3 separate regions of the Homo sapiens genome follow, and regions 1 and 3 are each linked to region 2. Evidence: fine-mapped expression QTL. A gene starts in region 2. Each other region holds a variant in brackets. All regions are shown on one strand. Distances are between the middles of the regions. Region 1 has its middle 98 kb from the start of ARAP3. Region 2 holds the start of PCDHA13 (protocadherin alpha 13). Region 3 holds the start of LOC124901090 (a long non-coding RNA gene).

What was found. PIP is the estimated chance that this variant, and not a neighbour inherited with it, causes the effect.
Region 1: its variant is the best candidate, but not a certain one, in a credible set for the expression of PCDHA13 in prefrontal cortex (BrainSeq, PIP 0.79).
Region 3: its variant is the best candidate, but not a certain one, in a credible set for the expression of PCDHA13 in lung (TOPMed, PIP 0.56).

What each region holds. Positions count from the first base shown.
Region 1 is chr5:141,777,869-141,782,109 of GRCh38, reverse strand. No RefSeq gene overlaps it. Among named protein-coding and RNA genes, the nearest start is that of ARAP3, 98 kb to the right of the region's middle. The variant A/G (reference allele first, on the strand shown) is at 2,576.
Region 2 is chr5:140,880,144-140,884,384 of GRCh38, reverse strand. It overlaps PCDHA13 (protocadherin alpha 13), which reads right to left and starts at 2,261. Exons shown (of 4, transcript NM_018904.3): 1 at 1-2,261. The coding sequence starts at 2,116. All of the region lies in intron 1 of PCDHA1 (protocadherin alpha 1), which reads right to left. The region is part of intron 1 of PCDHA2 (protocadherin alpha 2); the gene reads right to left. The region is part of intron 1 of PCDHA3 (protocadherin alpha 3); the gene reads right to left. It also overlaps PCDHA4, PCDHA5, PCDHA6, PCDHA7, PCDHA8 and PCDHA9, and 4 more genes. RefSeq lists an enhancer at 42-626.
Region 3 is chr5:141,026,127-141,030,367 of GRCh38, reverse strand. It overlaps LOC124901090 (a long non-coding RNA gene), which reads left to right and starts at 3,824. Exons shown (of 2, transcript XR_007058970.1): 1 at 3,824-3,924. The variant C/T (reference allele first, on the strand shown) is at 1,780.

The sequences.
Region 1 (4,241 bases), 900 kb before region 2:
TAAATGTTTGTCAACTGAATAAATGGATTCATCAGGAGGCATGAGATCATGAAGGGCTGCAGGAACAGAGTCTTCATCATGGGTAGGGCAAGAGGGGCTCTCAGACAGTTGCTGGGTGTGCAGCTTAGAGAGGGGAAGGTGGTTCTAGGGCTGGCCCCTGGCAGACTGGCTGCTGGTGATGCTGCAGGGCTGTGATGATGCCCATCTGCCCCTTTCTTCCCCACTTCCCAGGTAAGCTCTCTGAAAACCAACAGTACAAGGGAGGCTTAATGGTGGCACAGGCTTGCTGCGTCTTCCCCAGTAATGATTTAATCATTTGTTTAGAATTTCCTGTGGCATTAATGATTATCCCCCAGAACGGGGGGAATAATTGGCTGTGTTCTCTTGGTGAGCGAGCTCCCTGTTGGCGGGGAGCTGAGCCTGTTCTTCTGTATTCTTCCTCTCTCACCTGCCTGCCACTCACTTGCTGGGTGATGGAGATGGATGAGCTCATGTGTGCAAAGGGGCTGGGAGGACACCTGGAGGCTGCAGGGAGTTGGGCGACGGGGGGACCGAGAAAGAGATACACAGAAATGCAGAGACCGTGGAGAAGTAGCAAGAATCAGAGACCGAGAGAGAAAATGATATTGCGAGTTTGTGTTCTTAGGCTGAGTAATCCCCAAACTGAGCTCACAGCTTCAGTTCTTCCTAGTAGCTTCACTCCTCATTTTGCAAAACCTTCTGTGCATGAACGTGTACTCTTGTGTGTATGCACATGTGGGCATCTCTAGAGCAGTGGTTCTCAGAGTGTAGTACTCGGGCCAGCAGCATCAGCAGCACTTGATGTGCTTGAAATGCACATTTTCAGGCCCCTCCCCAAACCTACTGAATCAGAAACCCAAGAAGTGGGGCTTAGCACTCAAATAGGATTTCTAGGTGATTCTGGTGCACCCAAATTTGAGAAGCCCTGTTCTGATGTATACAGTGTGTAGAGATGTGTGAGGTGGATGCATGTGCCATGTGAACATGGCCACGTGGACACACATGCGGGTGTCTGAGCATTGGAAACTGCAGCAGCAAAAGCCCAGGCAGAAATCAGGCCCCTGCCAGAGAGCCCAGGGGTGCCTGTTATTTGGAAGAAGGGGCTCAGGTCCAGCAGCAACTCCCCCATCATATCCACCTACCCCTTGGTGGCCACAAGACTCCACTACCTGGGATAAGAGGGGGCTGCTGTCCCTGCCAAGGCTTCCATAAAGTTGGCCTGTCAGCAGGATCTGCGGGGAGCTGCTAGTCTCATCCCTGACACTCCAGCGTGGCTGAAAGAGGGACTGCATCCTGGCCCCAGTACTCTAGGGATTTATAGTCCTAGGGACCCGTCCCGCTCCTCCTTGCTGCTCTTGGGCCTGAAGAAGTGAGTTTTCAGGGATTAACTGATTTAAGGAGGATTATGCAGGGCTAGGGGGAATGAATTATCAGCGGAGAGAACCGCAGCACCCACCTGCTGGAGCAGCCAGCAGTGCAGCATCACTGAGGCCTGCGGATGATATTTCAGGAGGAGGTGGGTAGGGTGAGAGAGACCCTTCAGGCTCTGAGGGTAGCTCCCAGGTGTGAAGGTGCTGCGTTGGGGAGGGGAGGGGAGGGGAGGGTAAAGGATAGGGGAGGAAAGGAGTCTGGGGAAGGAGGGGGCCGGTGGAGGAGGAGGATGAATAATTTGGTTAGGTAGAGGGGGAGGCCACAGGAGGGTGGATAGACTGATAGAAGGAAGGAAGGGAGGGAGAAGGGAGGGGTGGGTGAAGAGAGCACAGAGGGAGAAGCTCTGGATGGAGAGGGGAAGATAAGGAGAGGTGGGGATGCCAGGACAGTCGAATAAAGCAGTGCAATCTCAGGGGAGTCTGTAGGGAAGCTGGCGGGAGGGAAGTCACTAGGGAGTGGGGGCTCCATGCTTCGGGAGGAGGGGTGATGGGGGCCTCTCCCACCCTAGGCTAACCTGAGGGAAGGGGCATGGGCTTGAACTTCACAAGTAATCTTAGAAAAGTGAGCTGATTATTGAGTTTTGTATTTAACAAGACAAAAAAGTGGAAGGAGTATGAATAATTAGGAAGTAATGAAGACTTTGCAAAAATAGCATTTTATTTTTAAAAATTAGCAAAGAAAATATTGAGAACATGTGCAAATTGGCCATCTTGGCCAGGTGAGTGAGTCAGCAACCCCTGACAGCCCAGCTGGGCCTGGGGATGTGAGGAGGAAGCAGCCAGGCGGCCAAATCCTGCCAGAGAGTGGGTGGGGACGTTGACATCATTCACCTCCCCCCTGCTTCCCAGCCTGCGGCTTGGCTCACTCTGCTGGGGCACCTGGGACCCATTTGGGGGGAGACCGTGGCAGTCCCCAGCATGATGCTGACCTCAAACGTCTAGGCCCAAACCCCCAGCATCTCTTGCTTCCTTTAATTACCACTGGGGTCCTGTCATCCATTAATTTTGTGCAACCCTTTCTGAACTCCATTCTATTTTCAGCTTGTGAAGACCCCTTGGGGGTAACAAATTCCAGAAGTTGGACAGCAGCTGGTTAAAGCAGGACTTCCCTTTAGAAATCCTAA[A/G]TTAAGTAACAACAGCTTTAGAAGGGACCTCCTGGTTCTGGGCTGATGCTTCCTTAGCAGTAACTTGGGAGGTTTGGGTCAACACTACCCCCTCGGCCCTCTGCAAGATTTCTAATAGCCCCTTTGCTCCTACATTCCAAATGTTCTGAGCTTTGAGGTCAGACAGATTTAGGCCCAAACAGGGACTCTACCACTTCCTGGTTGTGTGACCTTTAGCAAATCACTTATCTTTCTGTCTTCAGTGTTTCCATCTGAAAAATGATAAATAATCATACCTTCTATTTCCAAGATTGTTGGGACATGATAAAATAATGTATGCAAATCAACTCAAATAGTTCTTGGCACATGGTAAGTGGGAGCTCTGTGGAGCACCCACTCTGTGCCAAATGCTGTTCTACGGGCAGGTGATAGAATACGACAGGGAGGCCCCTGCCCTCAGGGAGCTTCCATCCCAGGAGGATGCTGGAGATGACCATAGGCCCGGAAGCAAATCAGTGGGGGATTCCAAAGAGTGATCTGAGCTATGAGGACAATGAAAAGGTCACGGGCAGGTGGGGGATAGATGGCTCATCAGGGAAGGCCTTTCTGGTAAAGTGACATTTGGGCTGTGACATGTGAGCTGAGAAGAAGCCAGATGAGTGTGGATGTGGAGGAGGCATTCTTGTGAGTAGTCTCAGGATTTGTGCGATCCCAGGGGAGTCTGTAGGGAAGCTGGCTGGAGGGAAGTCACTAGGGAGTGGGGGCTCCCTGCTTAGGGAGGAGGGGTCACGGGGGCCTCTCCCACCCTAGGCTAACCTGAGGGAAGGGGCATGGGCTTGAACTTCACAAGTAATCTGAGGAACTACTTACAAATCCTGAGATTTGTAAGTAGTTCAGGGCCACATTTTTTGCATCCTGAATGGTTTCATAGAATTGGACTCCTTGCCCCTCATCCCAACTCTTTATCTCAGGTTTCCCCTGTCTCTGCGCTTAGAGTCCTCTTGTCTGTTAATGGGTCCCGGGTCTGGGAAAGTGGTAGAGCAAACGGGGCTAAGAGCCCCGCCTCCTCCTTCCCTCACTCCCTCACTCCCACACGGTCCCTCCCGTGGTTCTCCTGCCGCCTCGCTGGCTGCCCAGGGTGATGGATGCCTCCTTGCAGGGCTGAGTCATGTGTGCCTCTTGCAAGCTCTGGGCAACATCTCTGTTACTGCTGTGCTCCCTGCTCCACTCCCCTGTGGGAAGGCAGATTTATAGGGGTTTTCCCCGGGGACTGCACGTGCATCTGCTTCACCCTGGCTTGGAGGCTGCAGGAGAATGGGCCGCTGCACAGAGAAATTTTCTTCAATGCACAGATGGGGAAACTGAGACCTGGAAGGGAGAAGAGGCTCCTAAGGTTGTGCTGCCACTGAGCAGGGGGCTGAGCAGGGGCTTGAGGCCTGATCTCCAGACTCGGTCCAGAGCTCTCTTTCCTGGCACACTTGGCTGTTGGCCCAAATTTAGGTCTTTGTCAGGGTCTTAGCTTCTCAAATTCCAGACCTAGGTCTGTGCAGCCCTCTCTGAGGAGCCCCAGCCCAGCACTCTGTGTAAGTAGCCTCTATTAGTAGTGATGGCCTAGAGTGCTGTGTTGAGGTTTTTGATGCTGCACGGGGCTTCATAGGAAAGTGTTATACAATAGTCCAGTGCTTCT
Region 2 (4,241 bases):
CGCAGATGGCAATGATCAAGTAAACATTGACATCCACCAGCGCCGCTTCTGGACCCACAGCGCCTGCCGACGCCCTCGACGAAGCCTGTGGCGCTTGGCCGCTCTCCACCAGCGACAACAGCACCGTTGCCGTGGCCGTCAGCGCGGGCTCACCGTGGTCCTTCACCAGCACCAGAAGGCGGTGGTGCGGCGCGTCCACCTCGTCCAGAGGGCGCGTCGTGCTGATCTCGCCAGTGTACAGCCCCACGCGGAACGGGATGCGCGCGCCGACCGCCGCCAGCTGCAATTCATACGAAAGCCACGCATTGTAGCCCGAATCGGCGTCCACCGCGCGCACCTTCGCCACCACGTGGCCTGCACCCACCGACCGCGGCATCAGCTCGCTCACTGTGCCTCCCGCGCTGCCAGCCCCGGGCGTCAGCAGCGCCGGAGCGTTGTCGTTCTCGTCCAGCACGAACACCTGCAGCGTCACGTTGCTGCCCAGAGGCGGCACGCCAGAGTCGCGCGCGCTCACCTGGAACTGCAACAGCTCCAGCTCCTCGTGGTCCAACGGCTGCAGCGCGTACACCTTGCCGCTCTCCGCGTGCACCGACACGTAGCTCGACAGCGCACGCTCGCCCACCCGCCGCTCCACCAGCGAGTAGGAGACCAGCGCGTTCTCCTGTGCGTCCGCGTCCTGAGCAGACACCGTGAAGATGTGGCAGCCCGGCGGATTGTTTTCCTTCACGAACACCGTGTACTCGGGCTGCGCGAACGCCGGCGCGTTGTCGTTCACGTCGGCCACCCCCACCGACACGCTGGCCGTGGCCCACAGCGAAGGCGAGCCCCCGTCCCGCGCGGTCACCACCAGTTCATAGGCTGATACGCTCTCGCGGTCCAGGGCGCTGTCCAGCACTAATGAGTAGTAGTTCTTGTAGGTGGACACCAGCTTGAAGGGGACATGCGGCGTCAAGGTGCAGGTGACCTGTCCATTTGAGCCAGAGTCACGATCGGACACACTGATTAGGGCAATAATGGCGCTAGGCTGAGTGTCTTCTCTGATGGGGAGTGACAAAGAAGTGATGGTAACCTCTGGGGCGTTATCATTTACATCTAGTACTTCCACCAAAAGGGTACAATGACCCGCCATTGGAATATTTCCTTTGTCAACTGCCTCCACGGATATTTCATATAATTTCTTTTCTTCGAAATCTAGTTTGCCTTTTGTCCTAATTTCTCCATTGTTCGGATTTATGGTAAATGCATATACCACTGCAGGCCATACAGGCCTTCTAAATGAGTAAACTATATCTCCATTTGTACCATCATCAGGATCTGTGGCATTTAGCTTGATCACTAATGTTCCATTGAAGGCGTTCTCTAACACCGTCACTTTATAAACGGATTGGTAAAATTCCGGGGCGTTGTCATTCACGTCCAGAATCGTGATGAGCAGCTGAACTGTGCCAGTCAGCTCGGGTTTACCTCCATCACTGGCTGTCAGTAATAAACTATGTTCCTGAATTTCCTCTCTGTCCAGTGTTTTCCTCAGTACAAGTGATAATGAAGACATTTGCTCAAGACTGTTTTGTGCGTCCAAAGTGAAATAATCGTTGGGATCCAGTCGGTAGGTCAATGCCGAGTTTACTCCAATATCTGCATCGGATGCGCCATCTAGTGGAAATCGAGTTTCCGGAGGTCTAGATTCTGCAATGATTATTCGTTTCTTGCTTTCAGGGAATATGGGCGGGTTGTCGTTAATGTCCCTCACCTTCACCTCCACATGGAAAACCTGCAGAGGCCTGTCCACGATCACCTCCAGGTGGATGCTGCACTCCGCGCTCCGCCCACACAGCTCCTCGCGGTCGATCCGAGAATTCACAAACAAAATGCCATTCTGCAGATTTACCTCCAGAAGGTCCCCGTGTCTTTTGGACGCCACCCGGAACAGGCGCGGCACCAGCTCCGCCAGCTCCAGCCCCAGGTCCTGAGCGATGCGGCCCACGAAGGTGCCGTGTTTTGCTTCCTCGGGGACGGAGTAGTGGAGCTGGCCACTACCCGTCTCCCAGGCTGCGAGGATCAGAAGCCAGAGCAGTAGTTGCCGCGGTCTTGGGCCTCCTTGCCAGGAAGACAGCATGGTACACTCCAAAAACCTCAGAGCTATCTGCAATATATACAACGCCTTACCTCAAACTGTCTCTCAAGGCCCAATTTTTATGGCTTCCTAGTGCGGAAGGATTCGCAAGAGGTATTCCGCTTTCTGCTATATTTTCTGCAGGAAGAAAGAAACGGCGGCTTTCTTCGCGGAAACGTTCTCAGTGAAGAGCGACACCATGCGCATGAACGTGTAAGTGTAAGTATGACTCAGTCTTCATATTTTCCATTGATGTAGTATTTTTTTGCCCCTTGCATTTCCTGACATTTTCACTGCAAATATGTAATTGAAGATTAAATGTTTACCTTCCCAGAAACAGCAAATCACTGCATTCTGCTCAACATTTTATATTAGCTGACAATTGGTTGATGAGTTTCATTTTGCCACAAATTTATTTTTCCATGTGTAAGAATTCCATGCAGAACTTTAAGACAAAGAATATTCGACACTCGTTTTGGGACAATTGATCGGTAGTTCTGCATAGTCATGTAGGTTTTTGTGGTACTGTCCTCTTCCTGTAATATTTTTCAAGACCTCCTCACACAACAGCCATTGACTCCAAAAGGAAACATAACAATCACATAAGAATAAAATCGGTGAAGGTGAAAAATATTGGTAACTGATATATCAGATTTTGAATAAGCACATCATATTAATAAATTTCCCTCAATGTGACTTGAGATGTAGATAAGATATTTATATTCAAAAGAAAGTGTTCAGTCAATATGTGTGGGATTTTGTATGTGAGTGTGTGTATGTGCATAAACACAATAATTTAGCCACAACAATGCTCTAAGGTTTTGGATTCTGTTTTTATAAAATATGCCTGGAACTAATATCCTATTGATTTAATAGAATTTAACTTACCGCCGCCGGCTGCAATTCATACGAAAGCCACGCATTGTAGCCCGAATCGGCGTCCTGGTTAAATAGAATTTAACCAGGAGGTTAAAGTTTCCATTTTCTCTCTCCATCTTACTTCATCATCACTGAGTAAAACCTTGCCGTCATTTAAATTGACTTTAATTTTCCAAGAAACAACAGCTAGACAAAGATGTTAACATATCTTTAGCAAGGAAAAGAGGAAGAGGATCTTACTTTTATCTATTGTTATAACTATCTCTACCAAGCCACAAAATCCCAGGCCAAATGGTGTAATGAAAAATATATCATAGCTCCAATAATTATCTGGCCTGTTCTGTGCACAACTCTATAGGAAATGACTGTTGGGTTTATTTCCATAGCTCTGCTCTCCTCTGAAAATTTAGGCAGAGTATTTGGTATTCTCTTACCCTCATCATCCTCTCCTGCTCCATTACTTTTACTAACATAGTATTTCTCTTCTAATTCTTTCTATCTGGCCCTACATTTCTTTATTTACCTCTTCACATAATTAGACTACATAGTCAACCATTTAAAATATGCCCTTCCAGACACTCTAGAGTCATTCACCTATTTATATTACTCCTCTAACATTCTTTTTAGCCTCCAACACGCAGTTACACTGACAATCCATTTTCTCTATGCTTCCTATTAAGCTGCTCAACATTGTCACTTAACCATGACTATTCTCTTCAAATTTACTCTCACCTTTACCTCAGTTGGGCTCTCAAGTGAATTGATAATTAACTCCTCCCTCTTGCTTACAGAGATTCTTCCATATTCTCTTTCCTCTCTTCTCAAATTCTCAACCTCATTTCCATCAGTTCACTTTCAGATGATTCACACATTGAGAGATGTGACCAAACAGAAATTCAATTGCTCTCTTCTTGTGTCATTTTTCCTTATATTATCTGTTTTCATTTTCTACTAGTTGTAAGGAAAAACTGTTCCCGCTTTTAAGGTCAACCATATGCTCTTAAAAATTATTTTCTATTCTCTCATGGTTTTCATCTAAATTCACCTGCTGCCTGTCTTATTTTTAGTATCTTATTTTTTACTTGTTTCTTTCACTCACACTATGAAGATAGTCAAACTTCTTTAACTAAAATATGTATACATACACACACGCACATACACTAATTTAAATGTTCTACTTCTGGTGGAAAACCTCTTCTGTTTATCTTTTTCCCTTCATGTTTAACTTCTAACATATACTTGATATATT
Region 3 (4,241 bases), 150 kb before region 2:
TCTCAGCTACTTGGGAGGCTGAGGCAGGAGAATTACTTGAACCTGGGAAGCTGAGGTTGCAGTGAGCTGAGATCACGCCACTGCACTCCAGCCTGGGCGACAGAGTGAGACTCTGTCTTAAATAAATAAATAAATGAAACATAAATAAAAAAGAAAATGCCATCATGATTATGTAGGAGAATGTCGTATTCTTAGGAAGTGTATGCTGCTTTATTTAGCAGTGATGTGTCATGTCTAAAACATACTTTGAAATGATACACCAAAAATTACACAGAGAGGAAGGAAGAGAGTGAAGGACAGAAAGGGAGACAGGGAAGGAAAGGTTAAGGGAGAGAGAAAGAGAGAAGTAAATGTGGCCAATGTTAAATGGTGAATCTTGATGAAAGGAGTATAGAGGTTTATTTTACTATTCTGTTGACTTTTCTATAGGTTTGAACTTTTTAAAATAAATAAAATTGAGCATTGCAATGATCTTTTCAGGCCAAGTACTAATTTCTAAAATGAAGAATAGTGGTTTCAAATGAAGTCATTTGAACCTACAGCCAAGTAGCTATGAGTACTAATTGTTTAAATATAATTATCTTAAAACTTGGGCCGGTTGCAGTGGCTCACCCCTGTAATCCCAGCAATTTAGGAGGCTCAGGCAGGTGGATCACTTGAGGCCAGGAGTTCAAGACCAGCTTGGCCAACATGGTGAAACCTCATCTCTACTAAAAATACGAAAATAAGCCGGACATGGTGGCGTGCACCCGTAATCCCAGCTACCTGGGAGGCTGAGGCATAAGAATCACTTGAACCCGAGAGGTAGAAGTTGCAGTAAGCCAAGATCACACCACTGCACTCCAGCCTGGGCAACAGAGCAAGACTCTGTCTCAAAAATATAATATAATATAATATAATATAATATAATATAATATAATATAACATAATATAATATAATATAATGTAATAATTTTTAAACTATAAAACAGAAATTAGAGGAGAAATTGGAGATAGTCAGTATAGGGAACACTTTCAAGGAATTTTTTGTATAAAGAAGAGAGAAATGTGCAGTAGCTGGAAGGAAAAACGAGGTCAATAAATAGTTACTTTAAGATGTGAGAAATAACAACATGCTTGTATGGTGATGGGAAAGATCCAGTAGGAAAGAGAAAATTGATAATACAGTGGTGGTAGAAAGCAATGTCCTTGAGTACATGACACAGGGAGTTCATCTAGTAGTCACAGAACATAACATACAGTACAAGAGAACAAAGGCAGGTCAGTAGGTCAATGAGATAAGACTTATGGGCAGCTCCTCTGATCACTTCATTTATCAAATTTATTTGAAGTTAGATGCTCTACTGATGGAGGAGTGGGAGGAGTGCTGAAAGTTGGAAAGACATCAGAATGTAGGAATTGGTCAAGGTAGGATGGATGCAGACGAGAGAGTAAATGGGCTAGGAAAATACTATATAATTGCCAGACAACGTTAAGGGCCACTTGAGATTTGTAATCACAAATATAAAATAAGAACAGCTAGCAATATTGTGATGTTTTTCTCCTGCTACATTAACATATGTGAATACAAGCCTGATGTGGGCAAAGTTTTAGGTTTACAAGTCTTTGAATTTATAAATCTAGTTTTTGATTTATGAAGCTTCGGATTTTTATAAGCAAGTATATTAAAGTGAGGGAGGATCATGGATTTTAAGGTATATAAAATGCAGTGATTATAATGATTGACCCCAGACTTTTCACTGGATAAAAAGAATTAGGACATGAAGGTGGTAGGGATGA[C/T]GAAAAGATGGTAGGACTAATAGATTTTATGTATTGGAATGGTTGGCATTATTTTCGGGTCTTAGAGGGAGTAAGCTGGGAAAATTGTAGGGGGCAATTAGAAAGTTTGATGCTTGAAATTGATACTTAGAAATTAGGAAAGTGTTGCAGTCACTGATAACATAAAGATATTTGACCTTAGATGGGAGTAGGTAGCTGAGGTCAGTAGAGCACTGGGTAATTCAAGGAGAGAAGGTCAAGGAATGGAGAAGGTAGGCTGTTAGAAGAAACATCTATGTGGATATTGAAATCACCAAGTATTATGTTTAGAATAGTACTAGAGAAGATATTGAGCCAGCAGGTAAAATCATCAAGAAATGACAGTGAGTGACATGGGATCAGGAGATGACTGCTACAAGGAGAGGTAGTGGGTGTTAAAATTTGACCGCATGAGATTCTAAGCTGAATGTTGTTAGGCAGAAGGGAGATAGGGAGATCTGGAAGTGGCAAGGTGGGGGGCAAGGTAGGGTGATACAGAAGTGGCAAGTGGTAGGATGATCTGGAAGGAGCAGGGAAGATAATTTCTTACTTCTAGGCCCAGTGGGATTAAAGGCTAAGGAAAAATCACAGCTACATTTTGAGAAGAATAATGGAAATAATCTCCTTAGGGAGAACCAGTGTTCGGTTTAAACAAAGACAGCAAATTTTCAGAAAAGAGGCTGCAAACATAGGGAATTTTGCTAATGACTGACCACAGGGCATAATACAAAGGCTTCAGGAGTTAAGGAAAGATAGAAATAGCGTAAAAAAAATCTACAGAACAACATGGGATTTACTCTCTGAGTGAAAGGAGATGGTCGGGGAGTTCTGAACTTTTGGAAACTGGCATAAACCACGACCTTAATGTTGATGGTCACATAGTGATGGTAAGGCTATAAGTTGGGGGTGAAGGATTTGGATCGTGTCACAAATATACTGAATTCTGGGGCTCTCGCTTAGCTAAAACTGATGTTTTCCTTTAAGCCCAGGGCCACATAGAGACTGTGTTTGACCTGTGCCAATGCAGATATGGAGACCAGAGACAAGGGCATTTGCTGTCTGGTGTGTTTCTTTCCATCTGTCCTGGATATTATCCATAAATGGAGGAATCAAGTTTCTGGCTTTGTACGCTTTTTGAAAACAAATCCATTCCTGAAGCCCTTGCTTCTCAGATGATCAGAATATTGGGATGATAGTTGTGCTGCTGATGCTGCTAGCTCTCACATGGGGCAGTGGCCTGAGAAAACCAAAGGGCGATAAGCATGACTAAAATTTAGCTCTGAGCTGAAGAATATTCATGTTTTCCTGTGGCTAGGATGGGTACTCTTGAAATATGGAAAGTTCAGTTAGAACCTCCCAAATGAATTTTTTTTTTAAGTTTAAAAATTCGCTACTTTTTATCACCAAGATCAGAAACACAATGGCCTAATCAGTAACTGTGGACATTTTGAAACAGCCTAATATTTAAGAGGAAATTAAAAGTAAGCCTTGCTACTATCAATGTTAAAAATCACAAATAGACACACACATATTGAGTCACTGTAATAATTCTCTGGTCCTAGTTCACTGAGTCTCTGCAGATTCAATTTGGCATCAAATAACAGCCCATTCTTCTCTGCCACATTGGTCATTTGGAACTGATGAGGAGACAGATAGCACTTTAGCTGCACAGAAGAAGAAAGAAGTGCTCTAAGGTGACATTTTGTTTTGAAAGAAGTCTGGAGATGTAAGTTTGTCTACCTGTTTTTATAAACAACACTTACCAAAATTGGAGACTTTCACCATAATATCTTTTCTTAAACCAACTTAATTTATTAAGGGTTAAGATACTTGAATTTGCCTTTGGTTATGTCCGTAACACCTAAAACTCATCAAATTATTCTTACCTACAATTTCCTCATCTATGCAAGTGAAAAATAAAACTGCCTGAAAGCATTAAAAGGGACTTCCGAGTCATTGCTGATTCGAAACCAGGGCGCTTCAACTTTAACCTTCAAGATAAGCATGTTCACATCTTCAATTCCAGGCGTTGGCTAACATGCAAGACAAGCAAACTGCTCTCAGAAGAGACCTCACTTATGCAAAGAAGGCAGCCAGAGGCAGATGCCAAATTCAAAGTGGGACCTTGTAAGTAATGATTACAAAATGGATTAGGTTCCTAGAAGGACATGATATATGGACCTAGAGGGATGAACAAGCTTTTGTTAAATAACATGCTAAGATGATGACAGGAATTTAGTTCACCTTGATACCAATTCACCTAAAGTCAATTCTCCTGATGCCAATTTACCCTAATTAATCATCTAAAATTATCATTTTCTAGAGCAGTGGTTCTCAATCCTAGCTATGCATCGAGTGATTCTAACCTGGGGAGTTTTTCAAAACAATGCCCAGGCCACAACCCCAGAGATTCTGATTTATTTGGCTTGTAGTAGAGCCCAGGC